Linked DNA regions of Homo sapiens. The protein of the gene in region 1 interacts with the protein of each later gene in a pairwise test. Each region holds a gene or a part of one and is shown on either strand. Other genes may lie near its edges.

Region 1 (3,812 bases):
AAGTGAAGGATTCATGAAAGTAAGCACTCATTGGTTATTAGAAAAAATTGTAATGCGAATATGTTGCCACTGCCATGCTCATTTGGGCTTTAGGAAGTACACTCTCTAAATGTTAAAGTGTTGCATTTATTTTAGTTTAATTTGTTCATTCATTCATTCGTTCATTCAAGACTATAATTTAAGGTAGTTTTAAGTTCACGGTAAAATTTAGAGGGAAGTGCAAAGATATCCCATATACCCACTTCCCCCACACATACACAGCCTCCCCAATTGGCACGATTACCCACCAGAGCAGTACATTTGTTACAATTGATGAACTTAGGCTGACACATCATAATCACCCAGCATCCATAGTTTACAGTAGGGTTCACTCTTGGTGTGGTACATTCTGTGGGCTTGGACAAATGTATAACATGTATCCACCATTATAGTCTTATACAGAGTAGATTTATTGCCCTCAAAATCTTCTGTGCTTCACCTCTTCACACCTGTTCACCCCTCCCTCCACCCTCCTCCCTAACCCCTGGCTACCATTTCTTTTTACTATCGCCATAGTTTTGCCCTTTCCAGAATGTCATATAGTTGAATCATACATGTGTAGTCTTTTCAGATTGGCTTCTTTCACGTAGTCATATGCATTTAAGTGCCCTTCATGTCTTTTCATGACCTGCTAGCTCATTTCTTTTTAGCATGGCTAATGTGCCATTGTCTGGATATATCACAGTTCATTTATACATTTATCTACTGAAGGACATCTTTATTGCTTCCAAGTTTTGGCAAGTATGAATAAAGCTGCTATAAACTTTTGTGGACAGGCTTTTGTGTGAACATAAAGGATTTGAAAACTCCTTTGGGTAAATACCAAGGAGTGTGATTGCTAGATTGTATGATGTTTCGTTTTGTTAGAAACAACCAGACTGTTCTGAGGTGGCTATTTTGCATTCCCACCAGAAATGAATGAGGCTCCTGTTGCTCCACATCACATCCTCACCAGCATTTGGTATTATTGGTGTTCTGGATTTTGGCCATTCTGTTAGGTGTGCAGTGGTATCTTATTGTTTGAATTTGCATTTCCCTGATTACACATGTTGTGGAGCATATTTTCATGTGCTTATTTGCTATCTGTATGTCTTCTTTGGTGAATTGGCTGTGAAGGTCTTGGCTTATTTTTCAGTCAGGTTGTTCATTTTCTTATTGTTGAGTTTTAAGAGTTCTTTGTGTATTTTGGCTAATGGTCCTTTATCAGATAAGCTTTTTGCAAATATTTTGCTCCATTCTTTTGGTTGCTTTTCATTCTCTTGACAGTGTCTTTTGCAGAGCAGACATTTTTGATGAAGTCTAGCTTACTAATTCTTTCTTTCATGGATCTTGCTTTTAGTGTCCTATCTAAAAAGTTAACACCAAACCTACGGTCACCTAGATTTTATCCTCTGTCATTTTCTAGGTGTTTTATACTTTTGCATTTAGGTCTGTGAGCTATTTTGAGTTAATTTTTGTGAAGTGTGAATGTGTCTAGATTCTTTTCTTGCTTGCTTTCTTGCTTCCTTGCTTCTTTTCTTTTTTTTTTTTTGTTTCCAGTTGTTCCAGCACCATTTGTTAAAAACGCTATTTCTTGCATTGTATTGCCTTTGCCGCTTGTCAAAGATCAATTGACTATATTTGTGTAGGTCTGTTTCTGGGCTCTTTCTCTTTGTCTGTTCGTTTGCGCATACCACACTGTTTGATTACTCTAGCTCTATTTTCTTGAAGTTGGGTAGTGTCAGTCCTCCTATTTTGTTCTCCTCCTTCAATACTGTGTTGGCTATTCTGGGTCTTTTTCTCCTCATATGAACTTTTGATTCACCTTGAATAACTTGCTGGGATTTTCATTGAGATTGCGTTAAATCTTTAGGTCAAGTATTGAGTCTTCCTACCCATGAACATGGAATATCTCCTCATTTATTTAGTTCTTCCTTGATTTCTTTCAAGAGTTTTGTGGTTTTTCTCATATAGATCTTATACATATTTTGTTAGATTTATACCTATTTCGTTTTTTGCAGTGTTAATATATATAGTAATTGTGTTCTTAATTTCATGTTTGACGCTGATATATAGGAAAGTGATCAACTTTTGTATTAATCTGAAATCTTGCTATAATTGTTTGTTAGTCCCAGGAGTTTTTTTTCATTGTGGTTCTTTCGGTTTTTCTACATAGAGAGTCAAGTCATCTGTGAACTAAGACAGTTTTCTTTCTTTCTTCCCAGTCTTCATACCTTTTATTTCCTTTTTGTTTGTTTGTTTTATTGCATTAGTTAGGACTTGCAGTACTATGTTGAAAAGGAGTGGTAAGAAAAGGGACAATCTTGCCTCGTTCCTGATCTTAGTAGATGTTTTCATGTTCTCACCATTAAGTATGATGTTAACTACAGATACTCTTTATCAAGTTGAAGAAGTTCCTCTCTATTTCTAGTTTACTGAGAGTTTCTACCATAAATGGTGTTGGATTTTGTCAAATGCTTTTGCTTTATCTAATTATGCAATCATGTGATCTTTCTTCTTTAGCCTGTTTCTTTTTTTTTTTTTGAGACGGAGTTTTACTCTTGTTGCCCAGGCTGGAGTGCAGTGGTGCCATCTCAGCTCACTACAACCTCCACCTTACGGGTTCAAGTGATTCTCCTGCCTCAGCCTCCCAAGTAGGTGAGATTACAGGCATGCAACAGCATGCCCAGCTAATTTTGTATTTTTAGTAGAGACGGAGTTTCACCGTGTTGATCAGGCTGGTCTTGAACTCCTGACCTCAGGTGATCCACCCTCCCTCCTCGGCCTCCCAAAGTGCTGGGATTACAGGCATGAGCCATTGTGCCCAGCCTAGTCTGTTGAAGTGATGGATTACATTAATTGATTTTTGAATGTGGAACCGGCCCTACCTACCTGGCATAAATCTCACTTGATTGTGGTGTATAATTCTTTTTATACATTTTGCATATGATTTTCTAATATTTTGTTGAGGTTTTTTGCATCTATGCTCATGAGATATTTATTGGTTTGTAGTTTGCTTTTCTTGTCAAGACTTCGTCTGCTTTGGGTATTAGGGTGATGCTGACTTCATAGCATGAGTTAGGAAGCATTCCCTTTGCTTCTGTCTTCTGAAAGATCCTATGTAGAGTTGGTATAATTTCTTCTGTAAGTGCTTGGTAGACTTCATTAGTGAACCCTCTGGGCCTGGTGCTTTCTGTTTTGAAAAATTATTATTGATGCAATTTCTTCAATAGATATAGGCCTGTTCTTGTGAATTTTGGCAAATTATGTCTTTGAAAGAACTGGTCTGTTTATCTAAGTTATCAAATTTGTGGGCATAGAGTTGTTTGTAGTATCCCTTTATTATCCTATTTTTGTCCATGAGGTAGGTCTAAAGTGGTAGCCTCTCTTTTATTTGTTGTTTTTCTGAATTTGTGTTTCCTCTTCTTTCATCTTAGTTAGTCCAAGGCTTATTGATTGTGTTTATCTTTTGAACTAACTAGCTTTTGGTTTCATTGTTTTATTTCTGTTTTAGTTTTTATTATTTCTTTTCTTCTGATTACTTTGGATTTAATTTGCTCTTTTTCTAGTTTCCTGAGGTGGAAGCTTAGATTATTAATTTTATTTTATTTTTATTTATTTATTTTTTGAGACAGAGTCTCACTCTGTTGCCCAGGCTGTAGTGCAGTGGTGCGATCCCAGCTTGCTGCAATCTCTGCCTCCTGGGCTCAAGGGATCCTCCCACCTCAGCCTGCCGAGTAGCTGGGACCACAGGCTACACGCCACCACACCTGGCTAATTTTTGTAGATATAGG
Region 2 (3,500 bases), about 190 Mb from region 1:
GGGAAACGGAAATACTATATTAGCGGTTAAGAGATACAATTAAGGAAAATCATGAAATAAGAATAAAACCCAGGCTGGCATGGTGGTAATCCCAGCACTGTGGGAGGCCAAGGTGGGTGGATTGCTTAAGCCCCGGAGTTTGAGACCAGCCTAGGCAACATGGTGAAACCTTGTCTCTACAAAAAATACAAAAAACTAGCCAGGCTTAGAGGCATGCACTAGTAGTCCCAGCTACTCAGGAGGCTGAGGTGGGAGGATTGCTTCAGCATGGGAGACAGAGGCTGCAATGCGCCAAGATTGCACCACTGCATTCCAGCCTAGGCAACAGATCAAGACCCTGTTTCAAAAAAAAGGCGGGGATAATAAGGCCCAAATGAATAAATGTAGAAAGGGTGGCTCAATACTTTGGGAGGACAAGGTAGGAAAATTGCTTGAATCCAGGAGTTTGAGACTAGCCTGGGCAACACAATCAGATCCTGTCTCTACAAAAAATTAAAAAATTAGTGAGGCATGCTGGCACACACCTGTAGTCCCAGCTACTCTGGAAGCTGAAGTGGGAGGATCACTTGAGCCTAAGAGGTAGAGGCACAGTAAGCAGTGATTACACCACTGCACTCCAACGTGGGCAAGAGAGTGAGACCCCATCTCAAAAAAAAAAAAAAAAAAGAAAAGAAAAGAAGAGAGGTGCAGAGGCAGGTCCAAATTATCAACTCTGAAATAAACCACCTTTCAAAATGAGTGACTCTGCAGCATAATTTGACCTGGAAACAACCAGTGAAGAAAGCTGAGAACCTTGTGACACTGAAAATGCCAAAGCTTTAAAATTTGGCTTCTTAGTCTGCAGTTACATAGTAAATTTTACAATTCATAATTATCATTAATATGAAAGCTAGTTTTGTGAGAGGTACTATTAGTATTTTGATGTAAGGTCCTACCTTAAATGTTCATACTTCCACACACCTTCATCTTGGCCTTCAGGTGGTTCAAGAATTTTGTCAATATTGGAGCAATCTGCTCTTATGTTCTGTTGAATATACTAAAAACAAAGAAGTTCTTATGGTTAATTAAATTATATCACCTGGTAAATCTTATGTTAAGTACATATAATTTGTTAATACATAACTGCTCTTGTGGTTCAACTTGGGTTATACACTAAATAGGAAACCAAGTATAGAATCATAATCAGTAACTAAGAAAAAAAGTAGGTTACCCTTACTTATTTATCCTTCAATTCAACTTCATTTGGATAGAATCTACTACATAAATGCAGATATTGTATTTGTCAGGACTGGAACTTGGATCAAAATTGCAAACCATAATTTCTTTTTTTTTTTTTTTTTTTTGAAACAGGGTCTCACTGCATCACCCAGGCTGGAGTACAGTGGCACAATCTCAGATCACTGCAATATCCACCTCCTGGGCTCAAGCAATCCTCCCACCTCAGCCTCCTGAGGAGCTGGGACTACAGGCACACGCCATCACGCCGGGCTAACTTTTCCATATTTTGTAGATACAGGATTTCACCATAGGCAATGTAAATATAACTATGGTACATATTGTGATTTGGTTTATATGAAGTGTCTAGAGTAAGAAAATCTATTGAGACAGGAAATAGATTTGTACTGGTGTAGGGCTTGAGGGCAGAGAGGAAGGCAGAAGAGACTGAAGATGGCTGCTAATGAGGGTGAGGTTTCCTTTCAGGAAGGATAAATATGTTCTAAAAGGCCGGGCGTCGGGGCTCATGCCTGTAATCCCAGCACTTTGGGAGGCCGAGGTGGGCAGATCACAAGGTCAGAAAATCGAGACCATCCTGGCTAATATAGTGAAACCCAATCTCTACTAAAAATACAAAAAAATTAGCCAGGCGTGGTGGCACACACCTGTAGTCCCAGCTACTCTGGAGGCTGAGGCAAGAGAATCGCTTGGACCCGGGAGGCGGAGGTTGCAGTGAACCAAGATCGTGCCACTGCACTCCAGCCTGGGCAACACAGTGAGACTCCATCTCAAAAACAAAACAACAACAAAAAAGCTTTAAAATTAGACTGTAGTGATGGCTGTGCAACCCTGTGAATATAATCACTCTAACTGTATAGGGATTTGTATGGTATGTTCATTAGATCCAATAAAAGTTGTTTTAAATGACTAACAGAAAAAACTAAGTTTAAAAAAAAAGGCAAGGGAGGGTCACTTTCAATTTTTAAAATGTAATAACATAAAAATTTAAATTTCAGATCTCTGTAATGCTTTATGCAATCTTTTTGATATTCTGAAGTCTAAATACGTTAGAACAGATTAAAAGGGTGGTTACAAAAACTTACTAACTATAAGGCCTTCTTGAGCCAATCAATTTTGCCTACTTCAGACAATCTTTCTTGAATATCACTTGCTTACTCAAAAACTTTTTTTTCCAAACAAAAGGTCTCACATATTTAGTACTGAACCAGCCTACTGCAGAGCATAGAAACCAAAAGAAAAACCATTGTTCCAATACAGCATGTACAACTGTCCAGATGATGGTGACATTTTCAGCTTGATATGGTGACATGATAGTGACCTTGATGCAATATTAAGTATGTGTGCCATCTCATGTAAAATTCCTTCTAGACCCAGCTTGGTTCTTTTCCAATGTCTCCTCTTAGAGTTGTACCTGATTTTATTACTCAGTTTTCATCTGAATCCACTGGGGAATGGGACGATTTTGCTTTTGTTTCTTGGCCAGGAATCACTTGATTCTAAAAGTCTTAAAGTCTTGTGGGAAGGCATGGCAAAGAACTGAGTCACACGCACACACCATGATGACAGGGAAAGGGATCAAATACTTTTTTTTTTTTTTTTTTTTTTTTGAGGAGTTTTGCTCCTGTCGCCCAGGCTGGAGTGCAATGGCTCAGTCTTGGCTCACTGCAACCTCCGCCTGCCGGGTTCAAGCGATTCTCCTGCCTCAGCCTCCCGAGTAGCTGGGAATACAAGCACCTGCCATCACGCCCGGCTAATTTTTGTATTTTTTGTAGAGACAGGGTTTCGCCATGTTAGTAAGGCTGGTCTCAAACTCCTGACCTCAGCTGATCCACCCGCCTCGGCCTCCCGAAGTGCTGGGATTACAGGCATGAGCCACCGTACCCAGCCTCAAACACTTTTTAATGACTCTTTAATTACTATTGAAACCACTCTCCCTGATTTTTTTTATCTCATCCTAATGTTTCAAAGTTTTGATTCTCTCTCTCCTTGAGGAGATACAGCTAAATTGTATACCTTCTCCAAAGGCCACCTCAAATTCCACATCACAATTCTGTCCAAATCTCTCGTTCCCCCAACACACTCAAGCACTCCCTGATTATTCGAATCCTCACAGAACTCCATCCAATTTCCTGCCACATTTGTAATTTGTATATATTAGCAATCTGTCTATTCATTTTTGTCTTTCCTGTTCCCACTACACCTTCTATGGATAGAAATTTTTTTTTGTTTTTGAGATAGAGTCTCACTCTGTCGCCCAGGCTGGA

The links. The genes of interacting proteins can lie anywhere in the genome.
Region 2: the proteins of KIDINS220 (region 1) and MOB4 interact in a two-hybrid assay, tested with the Homo sapiens proteins (one large-scale study listed by BioGRID and IntAct).

What each region holds. Positions count from the first base shown.
Region 1 is NC_000002.12:8,781,948-8,785,759, reverse strand, and holds part of KIDINS220 (kinase D-interacting substrate of 220 kDa), read left to right. Parts: coding exon 1-19; intron 20-3,812. UniProt on the Homo sapiens protein: Promotes a prolonged MAP-kinase signaling by neurotrophins through activation of a Rap1-dependent mechanism. Provides a docking site for the CRKL-C3G complex, resulting in Rap1-dependent sustained ERK activation.
Region 2 is NC_000002.12:197,533,066-197,536,565, reverse strand, and holds part of MOB4 (MOB-like protein phocein), read right to left. Parts: intron 1,037-3,500; coding exon 936-1,036; intron 1-935. Other genes in the region: HSPE1-MOB4 protein, read right to left, coding at 936-1,036.